Linked DNA regions of Homo sapiens: all the other regions are linked to region 1. The links come from fine-mapping of genetic effects on gene expression. A gene starts in region 1. Each other region holds a variant in brackets. All regions are shown on one strand. Distances are between the middles of the regions.

Region 1 (4,066 bases):
ATACATATATATTTATATCACAATTTACGAAACCAAAAAGTTGAGTTTCCAATGGAACCCTTGTTTTTTAATAATCGACTTTTTAAATGTGATCAGGACTATAATATTGTACAGTTATTATAGGGCTTTTGGGGAAGGGGAGGATAGCGAGAAGATGCTCTGGGGGTTTTGTTTTTGCTTTTCCTTCAGGGTTTTATTTTTGACTGTTTTGTTTTCTTGTTGGCCATTTCTGTATTGCTGGCATCTGTGCTAAGCTTTACAGTGGCAAAAATAATGACATGTAGCAAAGATTTTCAAACAAAATATTTTTTCCTTTTGTAAAATTTCTTGTGTTGTGTGATCTTGATTGCGGCTTTATCATTCCTTTCCAGTTCATAAACAACAGGCACCCACAACCAGAGGAATCTATAGTTTAAGCTCCAGACATACAAACATAAGGCACATTGTGTCTTTAATTTCAGGAATCAGAAATCATAGGGTTCTGATCACATTGCACGCCTCCCCCCTCACTTGTCCTCCTGATCCTGACACATTCTGAGTAACATCAGCAGGAATGCTCTGACCATGAGGTGGGGGTTTTGGGGTGGGCGTTGCCTGGGTTCTTGGGAGAGAGGGGAAGAGTCGGGACTTGAAAACCACTAGGGCACATCTGGATGCCTTCCCCCAGTATGTCCTTTTCTGGATTAAAATGAGTGAAATTTAAACTGTTCAAGTCTGGACCTGGTTTCCCTCTAGGAGACTATGTTGGTTCATTAGCAACTTTTTTTTTTTTTTTTTTTTTTGTGTGTGTGTGTGTGTGTGTGTGTGAGAGATGGAGTCTCGCTCTGTTACCCAGGCTGGAGTGCAGTGGCACGATCTTGGCTCACTGCAACCTCTGCCCCTTGGGTTCAAGCAATTCTCCTGCCTCAGCTTCCCAAGTAGCTGGCACTACAGGTGTGTGCCACCATGCCCAGCTAATTTTTGTGTTTTTTTTTTTTAGTAGAGATGGGGTTTCACTATATGTTGGCCAGGCTAGTCTCGAACTCCTGACCTTAGGTGATCCACATGCTTTGGCCTCCCAAAGGCCTGGGATTACAGGCGTGAACCACTGCGCCTAGCCTGTTAGCAGCTCTTAAAATCCAGAGGCATAAGCCTGTATTTTTGAGGGTTTATGCATGGAATCCAGCTAGAAACTGAGTCTATTACAGATCCCATTTATTATCCTTTCTATTCCAAGAAGCCTTTTTTTCTCCTTCCCCACATCTGTTTATGGAAGAAAATGAAGTTTGGGGTGTGGTTTGAGGAATCAGCTAGATTCTTATGATCTGTCACATGCTTGGATGTTGGGGAAGCATTTGGAGAAGCTCATGTGACTTGTCCTAGATTGGGGATTTTAATTGAGACAGATGATGTTTATCGGGCATCCCACCACCTGAGAGTTTTAGCAACAGAGTCACATGTGAGTCCATCAGAACTTACGGCATTGATTCAAGTGCTGTCATAAATAACCAGGACTGCTGTTTTTGGTTACTTTTAAAGACAGTTTCATCTGGACTTTCTGGGCATATCCTCCTTCAGCAAAACCACATTAGGCTGGGAAAACTATTCTGCCTGGAAGTAATGACAACTTGCAACCAACAAGCTTATAAAAATACAAAGAATTCTGGAGCCTATGGCTTCCATTACATTATTCTTTTATAGCCTTTTATGTTCATTACCGCATCCCAGAGGTGAGAGTCAGACACAAATATGAAAATAGGTTTCAATGTTGGAGAGGTAAATCCTAACAGGAAAGGGGTAGGAAAAGATATAATCCCCCAATATTAAAATAAAGATATTGAAGAAGAAGGATGGGAGAGACTAGGGCTGTGTCCTTCCTTTTACTCACCAAAAGAGAAAGTAAGCTCCTATTTGAGTCAATAGATATTGAGGTCTTGTTATTTGCCACCAAAGACAGTCTTGTGAGACTAAATAGCTAGTAATTCCCTACCCTGGCACACATGCTGCATACACACAGAAACACTGCAAATCCACTGCCTCCTTCCCTCCTCCCTACCCTTCCTTCTCTCAGCATTTCTATCCCCGCCTCCTCCTCTTACCCAAATTTTCCAGCCGATCACTGGAGCTGACTTCCGCAATCCCGATGGAATAAATCTAGCACCCCTGATGGTGTGCCCACACTTTGCTGCCGAAACGAAGCCAGACAACAGATTTCCATCAGCAGGTAACGTTTGCAACTTCCTAGATCTTTTAGCTTTTCATTCCTGTCAATTCTCTGAGTATTAGGGATGTAGTGACTTGAGGATCACAATAAACTTTTAGCCTCTGCAGATGAAAACAGAGATGCACTTCTTAGGTCATTCCCTGGCTAAATAAAATCTGCCTGGAAATCTGTAGAATTCCTTGTATGATTTATATATATACATACATGATTGTTAGTAAAAGCAAAGTATATAGGGAATCATTTCCCCATCCTTCAAGAGTGGCCTTTCTGCAGTGTTTTCTACTTTGGCCAACAAGGATCAAAACGGTTAACTCCTTAGTGAGGAGGAGGAGAGTGGTATGGGGAGGTAGTAGCTCAGTGCTTCCTGTTCACTGAGACATCTCAAAGCCCTTAACACTCTAGTTTTTAAATGTCCTACTGGACATTTTGCCAGTTTGCAAAATTACATGTAAATGGACTATAAGCAATTGTGTAAGCCATATGTCATGCTGCAGGCTGCAAATTGTTCTTAAAATGGAGGATTTGTAATTAAGAAAGCCAATGCAAGAAATGAGTGAAGCTAACTAGAGTAAACTTATGAAAAGCTGTGAATTTCATCATCATAGAACATTGCTTTTCAGTCTGAACATTCTTCTAACAAACCTTGGATCTGAGGCTTCTTGTCCTTTGCGGCAGCCACAGTGGGTTTTTGTTGTTAGGGGAAAAATAAAAAACCTTGCCCGCAGCATCTGGTTAAGATTAGGGCAGTTTCCTGCCTAAGGAGGGAAGGGAGAGAAAAAGGAAGAAGAAATGCATAAGGAGAATGAGGAGATATACAATGTCTCAGAAAACAGGAAACATTGTCCTATTTTCCCTTGTCCTCTTCTGACAAGATCTGGGAAAGTACCAGAATTTAGGCACGAAAGAGAAGAACGCCTCGAAGAAATGATCAGGAGGCAAAACTTAGACGGAAATCTCTCCTTTGTGTATTCTGAACCCCACTACCACCTTGCTATTTGTCTGTCTCCAAGCCTGCTAGGGACCCTGGAGGAAACGCACTGAGCCCATTCTGATTGTCCAGTTTCTATCCCCCATTTCTGGTTGTGTACGTGTGTGTGTGTGTGTGTGTGTGTGTGTGTGTGTGTGTGTGTGTGAGAGAGAGAGAGACAGAGAGAGAAACAGAGAGAGTGTGTGTTGCCTAAATCTCCCGAGAGAGAGAGAGAGAGAGAAAGAGAGAAATGGCTAAATCCCCCTAGATCAAAGTCCTTGGAACCAGATGTACCAGCATCCTATCTAAACACAGGCCCCTCCTGACTATCATTGTTTTATCACCCTTTTTCCGTCTACCTTTCTCTTCCTCATAAAGCCTAGTTTTCCTCTGTTTCCCTGCCAAATGGAAGAGTTTTCCCTAACTACATTCTTCTGCAGGATGTGGGGGCTCAAGGTTCTGCTGCTACCTGTGGTGAGCTTTGCTCTGTACCCTGAGGAGATACTGGACACCCACTGGGAGCTATGGAAGAAGACCCACAGGAAGCAATATAACAACAAGGTGCCTGGGGTCCTGGAGGGGGCATGGCAGGAAGGCTGAGACCTGAGCTCTCTCATCTTAGCTTCCAGACTCCCTTCTTCAATCCAAATGCTTTATTCCAAGCAAATCAGTCCCTCTTCCCTAACTCATGTTAACATACGGTTTTCATTCCTATGCTTCAAATCATCCTCTGTCAAACTGTATCCTTCCTTTGCTTTATAAGTGTGTTACATTTCTCTTTTGGGAAGAGTTCTAAGATTAATGCTGTTAATCTATAAGCAATTTTTCTGTCTCTCCAGAGCTTTGTGTTGTATTTGTTTACATATTATCTCTTCTTGCAGGCTCTTAATTCCATG
Region 2 (4,066 bases), 21 kb after region 1:
ACAAAACTTTGACAGGCTGGCCTTGGGACCTATGCCCACTCTTGAAGCTAGGGGCAAGATTGGTTCTATCTTAAGCCCAGGAGTGTCAGGGTTTCCCCATTTTAAAATCAGGGTGCTGTTACCACGAGAAGGAGGAAGGGAAGCTGGTGAAAAAAAGTATACTTCCAACACCTTTTAGCTTAGCTATTCTCAACTTTCCCATATTACTATAGAGAAGACAGATGTTGTTCACATTTTCGACACATTTCCACGGACACGCTCACAAAATAATATCAGTCGTTGGTAGCTACCCATAATTCTCCCCTTCTCTCTCCCAGAAAGCATACTGGAATGCACATCTATCAACATAATATTATTATAGGGATAATCTGCTGAATTGGCTCTAATTGTTAAACATGTCACTTTCAAACTGTTGGTACTTTTTTATTAGTAATACATTTCTTGTGACTTACTTTGTAATTAATTGTAACACATCAAATGTGTCACACCAATTGTTATTCATTTGTTAGGGGAGGGGTCTTATCACTGGCTTCTAGAGTACTCCCTAATTATGTCTTATTTTGTTCTCTTGGTAAAATTAAGCTCCTTCTTTGAGTACACATTGCTAGGTGACAAGGAGTACTTGTAGGATAATGGGGGATGTCTACTAGGATCAAATAATGCACCAAGCAGATAAGCTACACAGAATATCAGAAAGAATATATATTTTCAATTCAGAACATTCCTATTTTCCCTAATGACTCAAGAATTCTGTTTTCTTTCTTCAGAAAGTTATTGCATAATATTAACATAAAGTTAATTGAGGGGAAACTCAACATTATGGTAAAATCGTCTTTTCTAGTCCCATATTCTCCTATAGTCCATGAAGGGTATTCCTCACCTCACCTTTGTGCATTTCTTGGACAGTGAGGTCAGTAAGAAGTAAACTATTTTATTATGAAAATAATGTATGTTATTAAATTCCTAGCACACTTGGGTAAATTAACAGAGACTAGAACTAGCATTGGAATGAATCATCCTAAAATTCAAAATCCTTTTCTTTAAGACTAAATAAGGGTAGGGCGCAGTGGCTCACGCCTGTAATCCCAGCACTTTGGGAGGCTGAGGCAGGTAGATCGCCTGAGGTCAGGAGTTCAAGACCAGCCTGGCCAATATAGCAAAACCCTGTCTCTATTACAAAAAAAAACAAAAAACAAAAATTAGCCAGGCGTGATGGCGCGCCTGTAATCCCAGCTACTCAGGAGGCTGAGGCAGGAGAATTGCTTGAACGTGGAGGTGGAGGTTGCAGTGAGCCGAGATTGCACCACTGCACTCCAGCCTGGGCGACAGAGCAAGACTGTCTCTCTCTCTCTCTCTCTCACACACACACACACACACAGACTAAATAAGACAGAGAAACTTAAAGCAGCTGATTTTCAGGGGGCATGAAGCTAAGAGATGGTTACTTCAAAAGCTTGAAAAGGTACAACTGTAACAAGCAGGGACAAAGCTTCCTTATTTTGCTTTCATTTCTCCTTTTCCACGTTATTCAGGAGATGTTGCCTCGTTTGTGATGAAAGGGAGTCTGCATTCCCGATAAGACTTAGTGTTGTGCAGCATTCTGGATAAGACTTAGTTGTTGTGCAACTGTTGTGCAAAACATTTGCCTTGTTTTTTTGTTTTCAATCGCTATTGAAATAAATTTGCAAAAAGTGTGCCCCATTTCAGGGCAATTTACAGCTTTGCAAAAATCCAGTTTACAGCTTTGGAATGTCACAGGATGATGTGTAAGTTTATAAAATACCTTAAGTGATACAAGGATAGATTATCTAATGACATGTTCCCCTAATGTATTCAAACACTGTATGTGTTTACAGACTTTTGCATACCAGGAGGAGATTCAAAGAGAAACCTAAGGCTTAAAGCCTCAGAAGCCACTGCCAAGTCATGATGAACCAGAAATGAAGACAAACCATGTAGAATATTATAATTAGGAAAAGTTAATTCAATGAATGTTTATTGATTATTATCTAAATATGTGTTAAGCCACAGTGCAATACAAAGATGAGTAGGACAAGATCCTGTATTTTCAAGTTAGCTAGTGAGATAAAACTATCTTACGTGCTACAAATACAGAATCAGAATTTCGTGGTACAATTTGTATCGTGCAAGTGTAGCTAGAGGGAAGAAGAGTTGGGGTAGTTAGAGAAGGCTCTGAGGAGGCAGTACTTGAAGTGGATCTTGCAGAACAAAGAGGCCAAGGAATGGAGAGAGCCATTCTAGAAAGGAGGCAAGAATGATTGGGCAACTGGGGAGGTCCATGGGACCAGCATGGCTACATCAGAGGCTGAGTTTTCAAAATCTGGGGTTTTGTTTGTTTGTTTTTGTTGTTGTTGTTGTT[GTTT/T]GAGACTAGTCTTGTTCTGTCACCCAGGCTGTAGTGCAATGGTGCGATCTCAGCTCACTGCAATCTCCGCCTGCTGGATTCAAGTGATTCTCGTGCCTCAGCCTCCCAAGTAGCTGGGACTACAGATGAGGCACTAATTTTTATATTTTTAGTAGAAACGTGGTTTCACCATGTTGGCCAGACTGGTCTCAAACTCCTGGCCTCAAGTGATCCACCAGCCTCGGCCTCCCAAAGTGCTGGGATTACAGGCATGAGCCATCAGATTGCCTGAGCTCAGGAGTTCAACACCAGCCTGGGCAACACGGTGAAACCCCATCTCCACTAAACTACAAAAAATTGGCATGGAGGCGTGTGCCTGTAATCCCAGCTACTCGGGAGGCTGAGGCAGAGAATTGCTTGAACCAGGGAGGCAGAGTTTGCAGTGAGCCGAGATCGCGCCACTGCACTCCAGCCTGGGCAACAGAGCGAGACCCCCTCTTTAAAACAAAAACAAAAACAAATTGAGTAAAATGCTCAGGAAAGGGATCCAGAGCATGGGGAAAGAGCCTTGGAAGGCAGGGGCGCAGGACTTCATGCAGCAGGCAACAGAAAACATTTCTAGAAAACAGCATGATAAAAATGTGTTTTAGGAGCACAGTTTGGCAGTGATGTGCAGGATGAGATTCCACAACAGACTGGAATGAAGGTGCTGAAATAATTTAAATCATCAGAAAATATTTATTTAGTGTCTGCTGACCATCGCATCATATACTGTGGAGGACACGAAGAAGAGTAGGAGCTACAGGGCCCCTGTACTTTATGGGCTAACAGGTAGTTACATAAGGCAAAAATACAAATAATTATCATATTAAACAGAAAATTAAGAGGATGGTTTTTCTGCGCTCAGTCTATGTGTCTGCCACAAGGAGCCTCAAAGCCTCAAAGCTTGGTAGAAGCTCAAAAAGTGACATCCAGTTGGGGATAAAGAAAGGCTTTTTTTTTTTTTTGAGACGGAGTTTCACTCTTGTTGCCCAGGCTGGAGTGCAATGTGCGATCTCGGCTCACTGCAACCTCCGACTCCCGGGTTCAAGCAATTCTCCCACCTCAGCCTCCTGAGTAGGTGGGACTACAGGCATGCGCCACCACACCCGGCTAATTTTGTATTTTTAGTAGAGACAGGGTTTCGCCGTGTTGGTCAGGCTGGTCTTGAACTCCTGACCTCAGGTGATCCACCCGCCTCGGCCTCCCAAAGTGCTCGGATTACAGGCGTGAGCCACTGCACCTGGCCGAGAAAGGCTTTTTGTAAGAGCTATTTTCAGAGATGGGCCATTAAGGAGGAGCAGAATTTCAAGCAGCAGAAATGAGAAAAGGAAATTCCAGAAAGAGAGAGGCAACACGATAATTTTGGGAAAGCACTACTTTAAAAACAAGGTTGGTTCACTTCTAGGTCAATGGACAGTTTTGTCCTCTTGAACAAGTTAGCCTCTCAGAAGTTTAACTTCTCCTCTGTAAAATGAGGATAATAATATCTACCTCATAGAGTTGTGAAGATTAAATAATAATGCACAAAGAGTCTAGCACACTCATTGGCATATAATTGGCATCCAATTAATGTTAGCTAGGACTATTAGGATCATTAAGCAAGTCAACAGTGCAGAGGGTGACAAGCATAGATGATCTGGAAATATGAGGAAAACTAGTTGC
Region 3 (4,066 bases), 24 kb before region 1:
GAGATTGTGCCATTACACTCCAGCCTAGGCAAAAAGAGTGAAACTCTGTCTCAAAAAAAAAAAAAAGAAAAAGAAAAAGAAATGAATTTCCCACTGTTACATACTGTTTGATACAGGATTTTGTTTTAATTCATAGTAGTCTGACTACAAAACCTCTACTTTTTCCCTGTTACAACACAAGGCAATATCCATTTACTCAGACCATTTCTTCTTTTTTTTTTTGGTTAGAAATTTGAGACTTCCTATGTCTTTCAGTAGGTGTTTAGTGTTTATAAATTATATACTGTACGTTTTAGGATTCTGTAGAAAATATGGTGGTCCTTTCTATACAGGTACAAAAGGCATCTCAGGGTCACAAAGTTCAGGCTATATAATGGAAATTGACTACATTGTACTGAGAGGATAGTTGCTAGAAATTATGGGTAGGATATTAAAGGTTTGCTTGGAGAGGCACAAAATTGAACATTATGTGGTTTAGTGATTTATTTTTATTTTTATTTATTTATTTTTTTGAGACAGAGTCTTGCTCTGTTGCCCAGGCTGGAGTGCAGTGGCATGATCTTGGGTCATTACAACCTCTACCTCCTGGGTTCAAGCGATTCTCATGCCTCAGTTTCCTGAGTAGCTGGATTGCCACCACAGCTGGCTAATTTTTGTATTTTTAGTAAAACAGTGTTTCACCATGTTGGCCAGGCTGGCCTCAAACTCTTGACCTCAAGTGATTCGCCTGCGTCAGCCTCCCAAAGTGCTGAGATTACAGGCCTGAACCACTGCACCCAGCGTGTAATTTAGAGTAGCTTCTAGACCCAGACTGCTGGATTTTGTTTTAATCCATATTCTATGGATTTGAATTCTAGCTTTGATGCTATCTTCTGAAACCTTGGATGATTACATGACTACATTGTGCTTTGATTTCATCATCTCACATTGGCGATAATGTTAATACTGACTTTATAAAGTTGTTATGAAGATTAGATGAATTAATATATGTAAAGATATTTAGAACAGAGCATGACACATATTAACCCTATGTAAGTTTTATTTTTGTTTTAAAGGATAGGGAGAGGGAAAGTAGCATTGGCAGGAGTATCCCAATATGTGGACATGGCTAATGCAAAGACATAGGCAAGAGCAAGATAATAATGAACTGTAGCAATTACATTAAGTTGTGGTTAATGTAGAGCAGGAGTAAGCAAACCACAGCCCTTTATTTGTAAATAAAGTTTTATTGGAACATAGCCATGCCCATATTTTTACATATTATCTATGGCTATTTTCATGCTATAATGCTAGAGTTGACTAGTTGCAACAGACTTTCTGGCCCGCAAAGCTGAAAATATGTACTATCTGGTCCTTTACAGAAAAAGCTTGCCAACTCTTGATGTTGAGAATGTTTGCATATGAAGAACATATGGAACATTTTGACTTCAAATTCTAAAAGTTTTAGAAATACTAAACTTGACCTATCTTTATCCTTCATTATTAGTAGCATTACCAATTTTCTATGTCTGGTTGTATCCAGAGCATGTTATTCTGCTATTACTGTGGAAAGTTCTTTGATAGGGCAGTCTGATTGCTTTTAATCTCTTTATTCCTTGAAACAGGTGTGGCAGTAGCTCTGTGGACCCAGTTTCTGTGAATAGGCTGAGCTTTGTGAGGAACAGATGCAGGTGAGATCCTAAGTGGTGAAAACCAAAGGGATGGCCAAATACCTGCAGAGATCATCACATTTTTACCTGTCTTACTGTAGTCGTTCCTTCAGCAGCTCTCACTTGCATCCCTTACCTCCCACTTAACATCCCTTACCTCCCACTTACTTTTTTTCTGGCAATATTTTCCTAAACTTCTAAAACTTCTCTTGAAAATCCTGTTTAAGGAAGTCGCTATGCTATTTTACCTACTTTCCTCCTACTGCATACCTTTTGGTTACTTTACTTTGGCAAGGGTAAAAATGTGGCGGTCATTTTTGGGTGGGAAAGATGATTATCCTGTTTT[C/G]TAAACTCCTAAGAGCATAAACTTAAAAGTACTAAGGCAGCATTGCCCTTTGAGTTTTACGGGTAGATTTTTTTTTTTTTTTTCAAACTCCTGTAACTCTTCTAGGAATGGACTTGGCTCTGTAAAGGATGGGGAACCTCACTTCGTGGTGGTCCACTGCACAGGCTACATCAAGGCCTGGCCCCCAGCAGGTAAGAAAGTGAAATAGTAAATATTTCCCCTTGGTACAGTTGGTTCCTCACAGAGTCCATGAAAGCTAATATTTATTATATACCTGGTATATGAAATGTACTTTTGTGTAAGATGAAAGAAAATAGGAAAAGAAAATGTACAATCCTTCCCTTCCATTATTGAGCTTTTATTCCAGTTGAGGAGATAGATAACTCAGGCTGGAAAATGATTCAGTATTGGCTGTGTCACAGAATGTGGTTTTTATGTGAACAAATTTATACTGAACATATGTATTCTAAGCATTTGTTGCAAAGAAACTTAGACATTGAATGCAGTTAATTTGAGAAAGATTTCTAAAGTAGGAACAAGACTTTGAGAGAAAAGGGGAAAATGCCTTTATTGTAATAACTTATCAAGAGGATATTCTCTGCAAAGACTTTAAATCAAGCTTTGAGCAGATTAGCTTTACCAGAACTTGAGGTCAAACAAGGAATGTGAGAAAGGTGATTGGGTTGCAGGATCAAAGTTTTAAGTTGGCTTGTCAGAGTTTCCAAATCTTAGCAACTTTATTACTTCCCTGCTGCCTGGGTATTATTGGAAAGTAGGGGTTTTGGGGAGACAGAAACTAAGAGAAAAGAGAAGCAAGGTGATGTGTTTTGGAAAAAGGTTAAACTTTGGATGTGGAGAAACCTGGATGTGATTCCTGTCATTGTTACTTATTAGTGGCATCACCTAGGGTAAGTTGCTTGACCTTTATAAAGCTCAGTTTTCTCATCTGTAATTCAGAGTTAGTACATCCTGTATAGGGTTTTTGTGAGGATTAGATTTAATGTAAGGAAAGCATCCAGCCCAGTGCCTGGCATATGGCAGGTAACCCAATAAAAGTAATTAATGTAATTTAAAAAAATTTAACTGAAGTAGTAATGACATTTGAACTACTTAGTCTATATACTATATAAGCCACACAGTTAAAGTATGTGATCTTTCATACCTCTATGTAGCATCAAGGAATACTATTTTTCTGGATAAAAAGAGTATAACTATGCAAAAAACAGGGGAGAAATGCAGTCTTCTTCCCTTTCTGTGTAAAACATTGGTTTTTCTCTTTTCCAAGGGACATGAATAACTATTGATGGTTGGTATAACTTCATTTTGGGTTGCTTGCTAACTTTAAAAGTTACAGATTAGGCAAAGCATAAATTTTCTGCCTATAACATGGTCATAGAATGGATGTCTTCATATGTGCCATATTTGGCCAGCATAGTTTTTTAGAGTACTCTGGGTAGGACTTGTATTTTCCAGTTTACTATAATTAACATGGGTAAAATGTAGGAATTAATATATATGTAAATACTTAAAACAATGACTGGCATATATGGTAAGTTTTATATACTTGTTTATTCTTATTTATCATTCTCTATTGCTTTATGCTTAGCCTCTTCATAACTAGATGTATTTTGTTTTGTTTTGCTTTTTGGTTTTTTTTTTGAGAGGGAGTCTCACTCTGTCTGTCGCCCAGGCTGGAGTGCAGTAGTGCGATCTCGGCTCACTGCATCCTCCGCCTCCTGGGTTCAAGTGATTCTCTCACCTCAGCCTCCCAAGTAGCTGGGATTACAGGTGCATGCCACCATGCCTGGCTAATTTTTGTATTTTTAGTAGAGATGGGGTTTCACTGTGTCGGCCAGGCTGGTCCTCAAGTGATCCGCCCACCTTGGCTTCCCAAAGTGTTGGGATTACAGGCGTCAGCCACGGTGCCTGGCCCATAAATAGGTCTATTTTGAATCTTTACTTGTCTGAGTTTTGAAGGCATTTGAGTTGGAGGTCCCCGTTAAACCTTTTAACGTCACGTTTCTGAAGGTGTTTCCCTCCCAGATGATGACCCAGAGGCTGGCCAGGGAAG
Region 4 (4,066 bases), 240 kb after region 1:
TTAAAGTGCTGGGATTACAGGCGTGAGCCACCGTGTCTAACCAAAAATAAATTTTTAAAAGTGTTTTTGGCCAGGCGTGGTGCCTGTAATGCCAACACTTCGGGAGGCCGAGGCGAGTGGATCACTTGAGGTCAGGAGTTCGAGACCACCCTGACCAACATGGTGAAACCCTGTCTCTATTAAAAATACAACATTAGCCAGGCGTGGTGACACATGCCTGTAGTCCCAGCTACTTGGGAGGCTGAGTGAGTAGAATTGCTTGAACCCGGGAGGCGGAGGTTGCAGTGAGCCGAGATCACACCATTGCACCCCAGCCTGGGCAACAAGAGCAAAACTCCATCTAAAAAAAAAAAAAAAAGTGAAGAAACTAGATCTGAAGCCTTAATTTTCTCCCCTATAAACAGGACTTAACGATACTGTCAGCTATCTTATTACCGCAAAGATTTAAAGAGAGACTATTGATACACGTGCTTTGTGCTTTTACCTTAAAGCACTACACAAATAGAAGGAGTTTCAGGACTGTCCCTTAAGGGTTTACTCTATTAACCATTTTCAAGTCCTTAAATTCCCTAGGAGAAGCAATTAAGAACCAGGCATCAGTAGAGTATGTTGAATTAAAAGGTTCTACAGCTGTATTTTGAGGCCTGGAAGAGACACAAACAGGACTTTCTATGGCTAGGCAGAGCAGAAGTCACCAGTTAGGAAAAATCCCCAGGGTCAGAAACCACCTCCCTGCCAAATTTGCCCTGCTGCCTGTTTTTGTATGGCCCACAAGCTAAGAATCATTTTGGTATTTTTAAATGGTTGAAAAAAATGGGCCGGGCACAGTGGCTCATGCCTGTAATTCCAGCACTTTGGGAGGCTGAGGTGGGAGAACTGCTTGAGCCTAGTAGTTCAGGACCAGCCTGGGCAACACAGTGAGACCTTGTCTCTACAAAAAAAAATTTTTTAATTAGCTGGGTGTGGTGACCTGCACCTGTGGTCCCAGCTACTTGGGAGGCTGAGGCAGGAGGATGGCTAGAGCCCTGGAGGTCAAAACTGCAGTGAGCTATGATTGCGCCCCACCCCCGCACTCTACCCTGGGCAACAAAGCAAGATCCTGTCTCAAAAAAAAAAAAAGAAAAATTTAAAACTTTAGTGTCACAAGTCTGATTGGAACACAGCTACGCCCATTTGTTTACTTATTGTCTATGGCTGCTTTGTGCTGCTACAGTAGAGAAGCTGCAACAGAGATGATAGGTCCTGCAAAGCCTAACATATTTATCATCTACTCCTGTAGAGAAAAAGTTTGCCCAACCCTCTACTAAAGCTAAAGAGGAGTCTCATTTTGTGATGAAAGAGGCAGGCAACCAATAGTCAACAGTAAGGAGGAGAGGAATGTAGCGATGGGAGAGAGGAAGGGTGACCTTGTTCCAGGGGAGATGATCTCTGCCTGTCTCATCAAGGGGAGGGCCTTTTAGCCTAGGGATCCCAGGGGTACAGTCTGCTCCTTTTTTTATAATCCCACCCTCTTTCCCCCAGTTTCTTTTCCTCTTCACTCAAAGTTCAGTGGAGCTATCTCAAGAGATTCAGGTAAGGCTCAGAAGAGTACAGCACACAAACATGCCGACCCAACCTAGCCTTCCTCCCCCAGCACAGGGCTCTTCCCAGGCCTCTCAGCACAGCTCTCCAGTGCTCACAGGAGAAATGCTC[T/C]GCTCTGGCCAGCTTCCAGCCAACTCTGCACCTCCCCTTCAGCTGGCAGAGCTGATGGCTCCCTGGCATCTGACTGCCATATCTCGTGCATACCTTGTTTTGGACTAATCTTATACATTCCTCCCTCAAATCCTTTCTTCCTTCAGACTCAGCCCTGAAACACCCTCTTGAGTTTTCCCAGTCTCCTAGGTCAGGAAGCCCAAAAGTCAGATTCAGGGTTTATGCTGGCTACTTTGAGGTTAACCCAAACTTTTTCTGTCTCTTGTTGACAGACTTAGACTTAGGTACTTTCCTGAGGCTTTCTACTTCCTTTAGACGGTGTCTCTGCCCTTTAAAGCTGACAGCTCTTCATCACCTACCTGTGGCAAACCACCTCTACTTGAAACACACACCTCCCCAAACCATAATTTCTACGGTAGCATGATTCTCCATGGTTCAAAGAGAGGAGAGGGCTTCCTGGGTCAGTTTACTCTGGTGGGGAAGATGCTAACATGAAGTCTCTATTTGTAAACCTGGGGACAAGGGGAGAGCAAGGAATGAGAGAGGGTCTGGCTGGAGAGAATCTGGAGGGAGGCTCTCCTGGCATCTTGTTCTCTCTACACCCCACCACCCTCCATGTCCATCTAGAGTCTCCCACCAGAGCTCTTCTCTTACAGGTTTCCTGGGAGAAGGTGGCTTAAGGCTGAGACACTTATGCCCTGGGCCAGCCACTGGATTCCTGTGCTCTGCTTCACTCCTAGTTACCAGAAAGGTGGAATCTGGATGAGTGGAGGTGAGGAGAAGGTTCAAACTCTCCACCAGACCCATGCTGCAGCTGTGAGCACCTGCTTACAGGGAGGCCTGGGGGTTGGGGAAGTCCAGGAGCTAAATTTAGTCCAAAAGCTGCAACTTAAATTGGGTGGGTATTTACCCTGGGGAAGCTGGGAGGGGGAGGGGAGAGGAATCCTGACCCAGCTGAACTTGTGAGAGCACAGATCACCCCTAGTGTCACTGATACTCAAACCACAACCCCCTCCCCCAGCACACCCTCAGAAAGGAGGCATCCTCAACAATTTGCAGGCCTTTTGCATGCTTGATCTCTCTTGTGCATATCAAGTTTGTTCCTATCACCACCCCACCCTCATCTCAATTCTCAGGGGTCCAGTTCCTCTGAGTCCTTCCCTAAATTCCCACTAGTGCACCAAACCCAGGGGCCCTCCCCACATTCCTCTGCCCTCAGGCTGCAGCTTCTGCTCTCCCAAGTCCCCCCAGAGGGTTTCAGAGGTCAGCGAACAGGTGTCTGGCCACACTACTCCCCTCTACGGGGCCAAGAAAAGGGATTGCTTGGGGTCGGGTTCCCTTTCCTGAGAACTTCCGCATTGACCCCATAATGACCTCAGTGACCAGAGGAAGGAATCCTTAGGGGCTGCACTGAGTCCTAGCTCTAAAATAAGAGGGGAAAGGGAGCAGACCCCCAGAGGAGAGCCCACCTCCTGAGAGGTCAGAGGCTGGAGGCCGAGAGGGAGCTCATGGGCGGGCAGAAAGAGAAAGGGGGTGCTGAAGCCGGGGAGCCCTGCGAGGGGCTGCGACCGCACCTCCACCTGCGATTGGTTCTCAGGCTCAGGGCAAACGCCAAACCTGCCCAGCAACAGCCCTGAGCAGAGGGAGGGGAGCTTCGGGGAAGTCAGCTGAGCCGGCACCGCCCAGCTCTGGGCTTCCAGGAATCGCTGGGAGGGCCCCAGCCTCCACCCCACCCCTCCCTGGGTCTCAGGACTCTGCCTTCGGCCTTCTATACCTACTGGGCGGGCTCGGATCCCGTTTCCCTGGCCCCCCACATCTGTGATTCCCTGCTGAGGCCTCTTTAGGCTCAGCAGAGACGTTGGAACTGGGCTTTCCTTGTGGCCCCCTTTCCTCGCTCCCTGCCCTGGGCTGACGTCAGTTTTATCTTCCTTCTCCATTCCCTTTTGCCTCCTTCCCCACTCGCTCTCCTCTTAAGATGTCCAAATTCTTCCTTCTCAGCCACTTTCAACCCAGAGAAAGCCCGAGTCCCAAAGCAACAGGAAGATGTGCGGGGGACCGCGAGTGTGGGGACATCCTGCCGCCTCGGGCAACTCTGTCGTCCCCCACAGGGTTCAGGTGCTCAGAAAACAGCAGCCACTGAGTTCACTGTTTCCGCAGGCCCCGTATTCCCGGCCGTGCTCAGCTGGGCTTGTGGAGTCGCGAGCGGGGGCGCTCCTGCGGCACCGCCCCTCCTGGGCAGCCCGGCTTCCAGGAGAGACTCGGCCTCAGTCTCCGAATGGCAGGGGTCTGGGAGAGGATGTGATGGCAAAGGCCTGCCCCTCTCAGGCCGCCTCTAGCAAGTTCTCTACCTTGAGAGAAGCGAGTAGGAGGAGGA
Region 5 (4,066 bases), 56 kb before region 1:
TAATTTAGAATTCCATAGCTAGGCAAACTATCAATTAGTGAAATAGAAGAAATATTTTCATACATCCAAGGCATTTCTTACACCCTTTCAGGAATCCACTAGAAGATAGGCTCTACCAGTAGGAGATAGTAAACCAAGAAAGTGGAGATACGAAATATAGGAAATAGGCAGTATAACACAGAAGAAAAATGAAGCATGTAGTATGCATACATTGGTGTTAGTTTTCCTGTTTTCAGTACGGGTCCCTCACTTTCACCTTTACGTCGTGTTCACTAGACTGTAAGACCTTTGATTTATACTCTCCAGAGAGTAAATCTGTCTTTTGACAGAATGGAGAGGGGTAGTTGCCTTGGTTAGAAGGAATAGAGAAAAGGATCTAGGAATCCATCTCTGTAGTAAACAGATGCTGAACTAATTCTCCTTATTTTCACTTCATTCACCCTACCCTGCATACCCAGAGTTACCTGGACTCACCAGCTTCTGAGACTTTGGGGAATTCCATAGCGTAAATTGAGTTGGTTTTCTGCTTTTTCCCTTGTCAGTTTAGGATTTAGTTCTTGTCGATCTCCCAAGGCAATAGTCCATTTTATCTCTAGTTTCAAAAAAATTATTGCTCTTCTTCTCTTATTCTTTCCATCCTTGTGGTTTTATGTCTTGTGTAAAAATTTTTGCTTTTAAAAATTTTTTTCCTGTGTGTGAGTGAAGAGAGAAGAGAGTAGAAATAGATAGATACATTTAATTCACTATCCTTACTCAGAAGTTGCATAGTTTAAAATTTTAGAAGTAACTACCTTTTCGTTGTGCCATCCTCATTTAGGCCTTTATCACCTTGTTTTTTTTATTAATCTTGTCTTCCTACTTCTATTACTTCAAACTTTAAATCTGTCAGATTAATTTTAATTTATATTTTCATCTTGTTACTCAGACTTAAAGTTATATGTTTGTCTTTGTTGAATCTGATCCAGGTGTTTCATCGTGGCATTCAAAGCTTTCTCTTGGTTAGCACTTGACATCTTACCTTTTATAGGTCTTTTTCTTTCTTTTTTTTTTTTTTTTTGATTTAAAGAAAACCATTTTGTTTTCTTCAGGGGCAATTTTTTTTTTACATTCCACCACATATTATTTATATGTTTATCATATTTCTTTTATTTATTTATTTATTTATTTATTTATTTTTTATTATACTTTAAGTTTTAGGGTACATGTGCACATTGTGCAGGTTAGTTACATATGTATACATGTGCCATGCTGGTGCGCTGCACCCACTAACTGGTCATCTAGCATTAGGTATATCTCCCAATGCTATCCCTCCCCCCTCCCCCCACCCCACCACAGTCCCCAGAGTGTGATATTCCCCTTCCTGTGTCCATGTGATCTCATTGTTCAGTTCCCACCTATGAGTGAGAATATGCGGTGTTTGGTTTTTTGATCTTGCGATAGTTTACTGAGAATGATGATTTCCAATTTCGTCCATGTCCCTACAAAGGACATGAACTCATCATTTTTTATGGCTGCATAGTATTCCATGGTGTATATGTGCCACATTTTCTTAATCCAGTCTATCATTGTTGGACATTTGGGTTGGTTCCAATAGGTCTTTTTCTTTACAGCTCTTCACAGTTGCTGTTATGTGTCACCTAATGACACTTTGGTCATCAAAGGACTGCATGTATGATGGTGGTCCCATAAGATTATAATGGAGATGAAAAATTCCTATTGCCCAGTGACATCATAGTTGTCATAAGGTCTTAGCACAACACATTACTTTTTCTATGTTTAGATACATAAATAGTTACCACTGAGTTATAGTTGCCTACAGTATTCAGTATAGTAACATGTTGTACAGGTTGGGAGTAATAGGCTGTTACTGGGAGTAATAGGCTACATATAGGTATGTAGGCTATACACCTACATACCTAGGTGTGTAGTGGCTGTACCATCTAGATTTGTGTAAGTATACTCAATGATATTCACACA[A/G]TGTTGAAATCTCCTAATGACACATTTCTCAGAACATATCCCTGTTGTTAAGTGATACATAACTGTATTTTCATATCTCCCTTTAGACTTGCTCATGTACTTTTATCTATGTGGAATGCCTTTTTCTTCTTCTTTACTTTTTTTTTTTGAGACGGAGTTTTGCTCTTGTTGCCCAGGCTGGAGTTCAGTGGCTCGATTGGCTCACTGCAACCTCTGCCTCCTGGGTTCAAGCAATTCTCCTATCTCAGCCTCCTGAGTAGCTGGGATTACAGGCGCCTGGTAATTTTTTATATTTTTAGTAGAGACGGGGTTTCACCATGTTGGTCAGGCTGGTCTCGAACTCCTGACCTTAGGTGATCCACCCACCTCGGCCTCCCAAAGTGTTGGGATTACAGGCGTGAGCCACTGTGCCTGGTCTCCTTTACTTTTTTTAAGGCCCAGTTTGATTTACCTTTTTGAAACTTCCCCATGGGCTGGTTGCCTGCCTTCTTTATTTCCTTTAGTTTCCTCTTCATATTGAGCATCTTCTCTGCAAGTACTATGCCAGGCCTTAATTTAAACCAGGATTATCTTCTCTGAATTTACCTGGCACTCTTTTTTTTTTTTTTGAGACAGAGTCTCATTCTGTTGCCCAGGCTGGAGTGCAGTGGCATGATCTCGGCTCACTGCAGCCTTTGCCTCCCAGGCGATTCTCATGCCTCAGTCTCCCAAGTAGCTGGGATTATAGACGTGTACCACCACACCTGACTAATTTTTGTATTTTTAGTAGAGACGGGATTTTGCCGTGTTGGTCAGGCTGGTCTCAAACTTGACCTTAAGTGATCTACCCACCTCAGCCTCCTAAAGTGCTGGGGTTACAGGCATCAGCCACCGTGCCTGGCCTCCATGGTAATCTTTTTTTTTTTTTTTTTTTGAGACGGAATCTTGCTCTGTCACCCAGGCTAGAGTGCAGTGGCACGATCTTGGCTCATTGCAACCTCCGCCTTTTGTGTTCAAGCGATTCTTCTGCCTCAGCCTCCCGAGTAGCTGGGACTACAGGTGTGCGCCACCATGCCTGGCTAATTTTTGTATTTTTAGTAGACACGGAGTTTCACCATATTGGCCAGGCTGGTCTCGAACTCCTGATGTCGTGATCTGCCTGCCTCGGCCTCTCAAAGTGCTAGGATTACAGGTTTGACTCCATGGTACTCTTATATCCTATATAAACGTATTACTAAAAGTATGAACTTTTTTTTTTTTTTTTTTTTTTTTACAGAGGCAGGATCTCACTATGTTGCTCAGGCTAGTTTTGAACTCCTGAGCTCAAGCAATCCTCATGCCTTGACCTCCCAAAGTGCTGGGATTATAGGCATGAGCCACTGCACTTGGCCCTGAACTTTTTTTTTTAATGGAAAAAGTGTTTTTTCTTAGGAAAGTAACATATGCTTACTATTTCAAATTTATAGGCTGAAATAGAAAAATTAGCAGTAACATAAAAATATACTCAGCCTTAATGTATGTTAAACTAACAGTGGTAATTGTTTTTTACCAAGAAAATGACCACAAATTTGAAGGATTCCCAAAACACAGTGCTGTTGGAGGTATGGCTAAATTGATGCAGTGGATGAGGCTTTAAATTGGTATAACCTCCTTGGCAGGTAATGGGCAATCAGAGTTTTAAATGTGTCTACCCTTAGGCCCAGGGAGTCATTTTCAGAAATAATATGGAAGTACTGGCACCTGTGCATGAAGATACACAATGATGTTCCTTGAAACATTATTTATAATAGTGAAGGTTTGAATGTCATAACTATACATTTATAGTACAGAGTACTATGTAACTGTTAAAAAGAATGATCTACGTGTGTATTTATTGCCATAGCAATATATTGTTACGTGGAAGGGAAAAAGTTCAGAATAAGTACATCTGTACTTATGGTGGGGTTATGGCTTGATAAACCCATTGTAAATTGAAAACATCCTAAGTCAAAAATACATTTAATACACTTAACCTATTCTTAGCCTAGACTACCTTAAATGTGTGTGGAATACTTACATTAGCCTGCAGTGGGCAAAATAATCTAACTTAAATTCTACTTTATAATAAAGT
Region 6 (4,066 bases), 120 kb before region 1:
GTACTGAAAGAAAACTCTGTCAATCAAGAATTCTATATCCCAGGTAGGGCCGGGCACAGTGGCTCACGCCTGTAATCCCAGTACTTTGGGAGGCCAAGGCGTGTGGATCACCTGAGGCCAGGAGTTTGAGACCAGCCTGAACTACATGACGAAACCCTGTCTCTACTAAAAAGACAAAATTAGCCGGGCGTGGTGGTGCACACCTGTAGTCCCAACTACTTGGGAGGCTGAGGCAGGAGAATTGCTTGAACCTGGAAGGTGGAGGATGCAGTGAGCTGAGATCTCACCACTGCACTCCAGCCTGGGCAACAAGAATAAAGCTCTGTCACAAAAAAAAAAAAAAATTCTATATCCTGGGTAAACGAAGATTGAGGGAATCCACTGTCAGCAGAACTGTACTGCAAGAAATATTAAAGGAAACCGTCTGGCTGGAAAAACATGACACTGGATGATAACTCAGATCCACAGGAAGGAATGAAGAGCAACAGAAGTGATAAATATCTGGGTAAATACATATTTTTCTTTTCTTCCCTTACCTTCTTTAAACATGAGACTGCTTAAAGCAGTAATTATAACACTAGATTATTGGCTTTAAACATGTAGCTATAATATATTTGACAATAGTATCACACAGGAAGAGAGTGAAAGTAGAAGTATGCTGGTGCAAAGTGGCTGTGTATATATATATATTTTTTGAGATGGAGTCTCGCTCTGTCGCCCAGGCTGGAGTGCAGCGGTGCGATCTTGGCTCACTGCAAGCTCCGCCTCCCAGGTTCACGCCATTCTCCTGCCTCAGCCTCCCAAGTAGCTGGGACTACAGGTGCCCGCCACTACGCCCAGCTAATTTTTTTGTATTTTTAGTAGAGACGGGGTTTCACCGTGTTAGCCGGGATGGTTTCGATCTCCTGACCTCGTGATCTGCCCGTCTCGGCCTCCCAAAGTGCTGGGATTACAGGCGTCAGCCACCGCGCCCAGCCAAAATGGCTGTATTTTTACCAGAATTAAGTCAGTATTAATTTGTAATAGATTATGATTAGGTACAGATGCAACCCCTTTTATGAAAGCTAAAAAAAAGAAAAATCAGGGGCCGGGTGTGGTGGCTCACTCCTGTAATCCTAGCACTTTGGGAAGCCGAAGCAGGTGGATCACCTGAGGTTGGGAGCTTGAGATCAATCTGACCAACATGGAGAAACCCTGTCTCTACTAAAAATACAAAATTAGCCAGGCATGGTGGTGCATGCCTGTAATCCCAGCTACTTAGGAGGCTGAGGCAGGAGAATCGCTTGAACCCAAGAGGCGGAGGTTGCAGTGAGCAGAGATCCTGCCATTGCACTCCAGCCTAGACAACAAGAGCGAAAACTCCATCTCAAAAAAAAAAAAAAAAAAAAGAAAAAGAAAAAGAAAAAGAAAAAGAAAAAGAAAAATCAGAAGAATGACAGTGGTTTTCTGAAATGTTTGTTTGACTTTAAGAAGGCAACAAAGAAGAAATAGGGCTAGGCACAGTGGCTCACGCCTGTAATTCTAGCACTTTGAGAGGCTTAGGTGGACAGATCACCTAAGGTCAGAAGTTTAAGACAAGACTGGCCAACACAGAGAAATCCTGTCTCTACTAAAAGTACAAAAATTAGCTGGGTGTGATGGCGCGTGCCTGTGGTCCCAGCTACTCAGGAAGCTGAGACAGGAGAATTGCTTGAACCCAGGAGGCAAAGGTTGCAGTGAGCAGAAGTTGCAGTGAGATCATGCCACTGCACTTCAGCCAGGGCAATGGAGCAAGACTGTCTCAAAAAAAAAAAAAAAAA[G/AAAAAAAAAAG]ACAAAATAGGCCAGGCATGGTAGCTAAGGCCTATAATCCCAGCACCTTGGGAGGCCAAGGCAGGAGGATTGCCTGAGCTCAGGAGTTCGAGACCAGCCTGGGCAACATAGTGAGACCTTATCTCTACTACAAAAAAAAAAGTTAGCTGGGCGTGGCGGCATGTACTTTTAGTTCCAGCTACTCAGGAGGCTGACGTGGGAGGATCACTTGAGCCCAGGAGGTTGAGGCTGCAGTGAACTATGATCATGCTATCACACTCCAGCCTGGGGAACAGAGTGAGACCTTGTCAATCAATCAATTCATTCATTCATTCATTCATTCAAAAAGACTAAAATTATACAAAGTATATTCTCTGAACACAATAAAATTAATTAAAAATTAACAACAGAAAGATATCAAAAAAACCCCAAATATTTAGAAATCAAACAACCACAAGGAAAATTAAAAATGATGCCAAGTTTAATGAAGCTGAAAACACAACATAAAAAAAGTATGATATCCTGAGAGTGACACTGTATGGAAAAAAATTTATGAGATGCAGCAAAGCAATGCTTACGGGGAAATAAATAGCTTTAGAGCTTATATTAGAAAGGAAGAAAGGTCTAAAATCAATCCTGTAAGCTTCCACTTTGAGAGGCTAGAAAAAGAAGAACAAATCAAACCCAGTAAGTAAAAGGAAGAAAATAAACATCACACTGGAAATATATTTAATGTGATATCCTGGATTAGATCATGGAACAGAAAAAGTCCAGAAGCTGAATAAAGCCTGAAGTTTATATAAAAGTAATATACCAGTGTTTGCTTCTTAGTTTTGACATATGTACTAGATGAGGGATATATAGGAACTCTATTACTTTTTCAATTTTTCTATAAATCTAAAATTATTCCAAAATAAAAGATTTTAAAAATCCACAAAGAAAAGTCCAAGCCTAAATGGCCTCAGCACTGAATTTATCAAACTTTTTAGGAAGAAATATCATTCCATACAAACTCAGAGGAGGGAACACTTCTCAACTCATTTACAAGGCCTATATTACCCTGCTACCAAAGCCAAACAAGGACACCACAACAGAACTATAAACCAATAGCCCTCATGAAACAGATGTAAAAATTTTTTTCTTTCTTTTTTTTTAAAAAAAAAAAAATTAGAGAAGGGGTTTCACCATGTTGCCCAGGCTAGTCTTGAACTCCTGGGCTCAAGCAATCTGCCCAACTCGGCCTCCCAAGGTGCTGGGATTTCAGGCATGAGTCACAGCATCCAGCCAAGATCTTTTTTTTTTAAATCAGCAAATCCAATCCAGCAACATATAAAAAGAATTATACATCAAGACCAAGGCTGGTTTACTCCAGGAATGCAAGGTTGGTTTAACATCTAAAAAAACAACTACTGTAATACATTCTTAATATGATAAAAGACAAAAGGAACATAGGAGAATGATACAGAAAAAGCTGACAAAATCCAAAATCCAATTAGGCTATGATAAAATCTCTCAAACTAGGATTAGAAGGGGATTCCTTTAATTTAATAAATGACATCTATAGAAAACCTACTGCTAACATAATTAATGGTTAAACACCAAATGCTTTCATATCAACATCAGGAAGAAGAAAAGGATGTCTGTTTTTTTTTTTTTTTTTTTTGGGTGAGACAGAGTCTCACTCTGTCGCCCAGGCTGGAGTGCAGTAGTGTGGTTTCTTTTTTTTTTTTTTTGGTTTATCTTTATTTTTTTTATTTTTTATTTTTTAATTTTTTTTTATTATACTTTAAGTTTTAGGGTACATGTGCACATTGTGCAGGTTAGTTACATATGTATACATGTAGTAGTGTGGTTTCTGTTCACTGCAAGCTCCACCTCCTGGGTTCACGCCATTCTCCTGCCTCAGCCTCCCAAGTAGCTGGGACTACAGGCGTCCGCCGCCACGCCCAGCTAATTTTTTGTATTTTTAGTAGAGATGGGGTTTCACCGTGTTAGCCAGGATGGTCTGGATCTCCTGACCTCATGATCCGCCCTCCTTGGCCTCCCAAAGTGCTGGGATTACAGGCGTGAGCCACCACGCCTGGCCAGGATGTCTGTTCTGGAAACCCTTTTTTTTTTTTTTTTTTTTGAAGACAAGAGTCTTGCTTTGTCACCCAGGCTGGAGTGCAGTGGCACAATCACAGCTCACTGCAGCCTCAACTTCCTATGCTTAAGAGATCCTTCCACCTCAGCCTCCCAAGTAGCTGGGATTACTGGGGTGCACCACCATGCCTGGCTAATTTTTTTAT
Region 7 (4,066 bases), 180 kb after region 1:
ATCACATTTAACATTGACAACCTGCCCTCCCTTTCTTCATTTGCTTTCCATGGCTCTTCTCTCTTCTAATTCTCTCCCTACCACTCTGATCATTTGTATGTCTTTTGCCAACTTTTCCCCACGTTTCTGTCTTGGGAGTTTTTTTTTTTTTTTTTTTTTTAAGAGACGGGTTCACTCTGTTGCCTAGGCTGGAGTGCAATGGCATGATCATAGCTCACTGTAACCTCAAACTCCTGGCTTCAGGCGATCCTCTCACCTTGACCATTCAAAGTGTTGGGATTACAGGTGTAAGCCACCGCACCTGACTGGAACCTCTTTTTTTCCTACATTCTCCTTTGTGATCCCATCAACTTCCACAACTTTACTTACATTTATGTGAAAAAGTCCAAAATTTGTACATCTTCAGCGTCTACTTTTCTCCCAAACTCCCACACTTACATTTCCTAGAACCCTTAAATTTCAGATATGGAGATCTTAGAGGTCATTTATCCTAAGTCTTCATTGCCTGGATGTCTCCACCAAATGGTTCATTCGCTTTTAATAAAGTCCATGTTTTCAGGCCGGGCACGGTGGTTCACGCCCGTAATCCCAGCATTTGGGAGGCCGAGGCAGGCAGGTCACCTGAGTTCAGGAGTTTGAGACCAGCCTGGCCAACATGGCGAAACCCTGTCTCTACTAAAAATACAAAAATCAGCCGGGCATGGTGGCGCACACCTGTAGTCGGGAGGCTGAGGCAGGAGAATCACTTTAACCCGCGAGGCAGAGGTTGTAGGGAACTGAGATTGTGCTACTGCACTACAGCCTGGGTGACAGAGCGAGACTCCGTCTCAAAAAAAAAAAAAAAAAAAAAAAAAAGTCCATGTTTTCAAAACTGAATGCCTTATTTTCTCTCTGCTTTTCAGCTCCATTCCCAAATTGACTCCTCTTCTTGAATTTATTGTTTCTATAAATAATCACCTTGAGGCACACAGTCTTCTCATTCTCTATTCAGTCAGCTGCTAGTCTAGTGGATTCCATTGTCACAGACTCTCTTGGTTAGGTTCACTATTTTCTATTCTTAACTACTACGTTTCTAGGTTAAATCCTAATTATCTCCCACCTAACGTTTGCAGAGGACTCGGCTAGACTGTTCATCTCTGGTAGTTTTCTGCTTGGAATTCTGAGTCTTTTTATTCATTACCACCAAATTATCTCCATAAAGAGCACTTCTTATCTGCCACTCTTTTTTTTTTTTTTTTTTTGAGACGGACTCTCACTGTCACCCAGGCTGGAGTTCAGTGGCGAGATGCGATCTCGGTTCACTGCAACCTCCGCCTCCCAGGTAAAAGCGATTCTCCTGCCTCAGGCTCCTGAGTAGCTGGGACTACAGGTGCACGCCACCACGCCTGGCTAATTTTTGTATTTTTAGTAGAGACGGGGTTTCTCCATGTTGACCAGGATGGTTTCTATCGCCTGACATCATGATCCACCCTCATCGGCCTCCCAAGGTGCTGGGATTACATGCGTGGGCCACCGTGCCCAGCCTTGTTTTGTATTTCTAGTAGAGACAGGGTTTCACCATGTTGGCCAGGCTGGTTTCGAACTCCTGACCTCAAGTGATTCGCCCGCCTACGCCTCCCAGAGTGCTGGCATTACAGGCGTGAGTCACCGCGCCCAGCCAGGCCTGTAAGCTTTCTAAGGGCAGAGACTGCCTTACTATACACGTACCCCCCCCAACTAACACAGTACCATCCACATACAGACAGACGCCCAGGAAATGTTAAACTGTAATTCTGGATAGGTTAACTAGTATTAACCGTATTTACCAAATGTTTACCACATACTTACACTGTCCTCCTTGTTTCAAGGAGCGTAGTCCCCAAGGGATCACCCTGATGGAATATAAAAACTACACATAAGAGTGAAACTACGGAACGTAAGCCATTAGTGTTTTGCAAGACAGCTCGGGTTGAGACTCAGTCTCTCTCTTCCACAGGCCAAGTGACACATCGTAATACCATTGGTACCGTTTTATTTTATTTTTCGCGACAAAGTCTCGTCCTGTCACCCAGGCTGGAGTGCAGTGGCGCGATTTCGGCTCACTGCAACCTCCGCCTGCAGGGTTCAAGCGATTCTCCTGCCTCAGCCTCCCAAGTAATTGGGATTACAAACGCCCGCCACCACGCCCGGCTAATATTTGTATTTTTAGTAGAGACGGGGTTTCACCATGTTGGTCAGGCTGGTCTCGAACTCCTAACCTCAGGTGATCCGCCCACCTCGGCCTCCCAAAGTGCTAGGATTACAGGCGTGAGGCACCGCGCCCG[G/T]CCTGTTAGTACTACTTTAAAATCGAATCTGACCTCCAAATCATTTTCTGGAGCTCGATCATTTTCTGCTAACACCGCAAAGCTTAATCCTCTCCACCTGAGAATAAAAGGTTCCATCCTTCCGCTCTCCAGTTTGACGCCCTGCTAAGTCTCTCGGACGCGGTGGGCTGGAGTGAAGGAAGCCGGAGCCCACCAAAGCTGCAAAAGTACCACAGCCAGCAGCCCCGCCCCCGATATCCCCCACAGGCTTCCAATTGGTCCTTGTGGCTCACTCTCTTTCCAGGTTGGTGTTCCAGCTTGCCGGTCGCCTCTATAGAGCCCACCTTTAGACGGCGACTATTGGTAGATCGTTACGTCATTGCCCTATCTACCTCACTCCCACTGGCTCTCATAGGAAGGGGCGGTCGCAACGTCACGGGCAAGGGCCGCCATTTTGACTGAGCAACCCTAGTGACAGGAGCCGAAGCAGCAGCGCAGGTTGTCCCCGTTTCCCCTCCCCCTTCCCTTCTCCGGTTGCCTTCCCGGGCCCCTTACACTCCACAGTCCCGGTCCCGCCATGTCCCAGAAACAAGAAGAAGAGAACCCTGCGGAGGAGACCGGCGAGGAGAAGCAGGTGAAGTGGAAGGGGTGCGGGCGGGCGAGCTGGGGAGACCGTGATGGGGCGGGAGACGGTCTCCCACCAGTGCGGATTGGTCGCCATGGTCTCAGGCTCCGCAGGGGTTGGCCACTTTTTGCGTCACGCTGGGTGAGCTTCAACACGACATGCTGCTTTGGCGCTGGTTAGTTGGGTCGTTTGTCACTCAGTACTGTACTCTTCCTGATTGGCCAATAGGCCTACCGCTCAAACCTTGGACGCTGTGCTATAATTGGCCGAGCATGGACGTGGGGCGGGTGGTTGGAAAGACGGTGAATGGAAAGGGGATGGCTGGTGGTCTTGGGTGTGATGTGTGTTATTGGTTTGTAGAGGTAAGTGACCCAGCAACCGGGCTGGGGCCCGCAGCCTCAATCCGCAAAGATAGGGGTCGAGGTAAAGACGTTTAAAAAAAAACCAGTATTGGGGGAGGGGAGAAGTGTAGTTATTATAATGGCTAGTTTAAGGCGGCAACTTTCTCAAGAGACCTATTTTAGTAGCTAAGGATGGTCTATTGCTCACCTTCAGTGAGGACCCAGCAATATTGAAGAGGGCTAGAGTTCCAAACAGAATCATGGTAATTAAACTTGGAAAAGACGCCGACAGGGTCGTGAGAAAGACACTTCTCTCTTCCCCTAGACTTCCAAGGCAGGGACTTAGTGCACCTGCGATTCCGTGATGGAAACACTAACGCCAAATAAACCCCTTATTGGGGTTTGTATTTGACTTTTAAAATTTAGTACTGGGTTCAGGTACTCATTAAATACACTTGGTGTTATATCTATGCGTAATTTCCAAGAGAAAGGAATATAATTCCACTAAAAAGAGTCATACGTTGACTTCATATCTTTTCAAAAAGTCACTAAAGGGCAGCAGGGACCACAAAAAAAAAAAAAAGAGATTGACTACAGTAGTGAGAGTCCCTGCACCACCAGGGTAGGTATTGATTTTTTTGATGAAAACTGGTGGGTAAATACTAGTGAGCCTACTGTATCTTTGTTTTCCTGAGGTTAAAAACAGTATCATTTTCCTCTCTGTTTATCAGCTTGCTACCATAATATTTGTGGAAATGTTGAAGCAAGGCTGTGCCATTACTCAGGTGGAGATCTTTGGAGAAGGCCACATAGCTAGC

The links.
Region 2: its variant is fine-mapped to the expression of CTSK in T cells (TOPMed, PIP above 0.99). The same link has a PIP of 0.9 or more in blood mononuclear cells.
Region 3: its variant is fine-mapped to the expression of CTSK in whole blood (TOPMed, PIP 0.99).
Region 4: its variant is fine-mapped to the expression of CTSK in whole blood (TOPMed, PIP above 0.99).
Region 5: its variant is fine-mapped to the expression of CTSK in whole blood (TOPMed, PIP above 0.99).
Region 6: its variant is fine-mapped to the expression of CTSK in whole blood (INTERVAL, PIP above 0.99).
Region 7: its variant is fine-mapped to the expression of CTSK in whole blood (INTERVAL, PIP above 0.99).

Annotation. Positions count from the first base shown.
Region 1 is chr1:150,806,351-150,810,416 of GRCh38, reverse strand. CTSK (cathepsin K) reads left to right here and starts at 2,157. Exons shown (of 8, transcript NM_000396.4): 1 at 2,157-2,203; 2 at 3,611-3,731. The coding sequence starts at 3,612. ARNT (aryl hydrocarbon receptor nuclear translocator) reads left to right here. Exons shown (of 22, transcript NM_001668.4): 22 at 1-704.
Region 2 is chr1:150,785,476-150,789,541 of GRCh38, reverse strand. No RefSeq gene overlaps it. Among named protein-coding and RNA genes, the nearest start is that of CTSK, 21 kb to the left of the region's middle. The variant GTTT/T (reference allele first, on the strand shown) is at 2,381.
Region 3 is chr1:150,829,938-150,834,003 of GRCh38, reverse strand. ARNT (aryl hydrocarbon receptor nuclear translocator) reads left to right here. Exons shown (of 22, transcript NM_001668.4): 9 at 1,605-1,670; 10 at 2,101-2,186; 11 at 4,024-4,066. Among named protein-coding and RNA genes, the nearest start is that of CTSK, 24 kb to the right of the region's middle. The variant C/G (reference allele first, on the strand shown) is at 1,996.
Region 4 is chr1:150,561,500-150,565,565 of GRCh38, reverse strand. ADAMTSL4-AS1 (ADAMTSL4 antisense RNA 1) reads left to right here. Exons shown (of 4, transcript NR_104133.1): 3 at 2,349-2,464. Among named protein-coding and RNA genes, the nearest start is that of ADAMTSL4-AS2, 5.8 kb to the right of the region's middle. RefSeq lists enhancers at 2,120-2,169, 2,440-2,719, 2,068-2,921, 2,922-3,773, 3,600-3,779. The variant T/C (reference allele first, on the strand shown) is at 1,693.
Region 5 is chr1:150,861,875-150,865,940 of GRCh38, reverse strand. All of the region lies in intron 1 of ARNT (aryl hydrocarbon receptor nuclear translocator), which reads left to right. Among named protein-coding and RNA genes, the nearest start is that of ARNT, 13 kb to the left of the region's middle. The variant A/G (reference allele first, on the strand shown) is at 1,978.
Region 6 is chr1:150,931,102-150,935,167 of GRCh38, reverse strand. All of the region lies in intron 3 of SETDB1 (SET domain bifurcated histone lysine methyltransferase 1), which reads right to left. Among named protein-coding and RNA genes, the nearest start is that of SETDB1, 6.8 kb to the right of the region's middle. The variant G/AAAAAAAAAAG (reference allele first, on the strand shown) is at 1,800.
Region 7 is chr1:150,628,264-150,632,329 of GRCh38, reverse strand. It overlaps ENSA (endosulfine alpha), which reads left to right and starts at 2,718. Exons shown (of 4, transcript NM_004436.4): 1 at 2,718-2,916. The coding sequence starts at 2,860. LOC112268239 (a long non-coding RNA gene) reads right to left here and starts at 2,511. Exons shown (of 2, transcript XR_007066603.1): 1 at 1,828-2,511. RefSeq lists enhancers at 1,054-2,023, 2,024-2,991, 2,734-3,003. The variant G/T (reference allele first, on the strand shown) is at 2,304.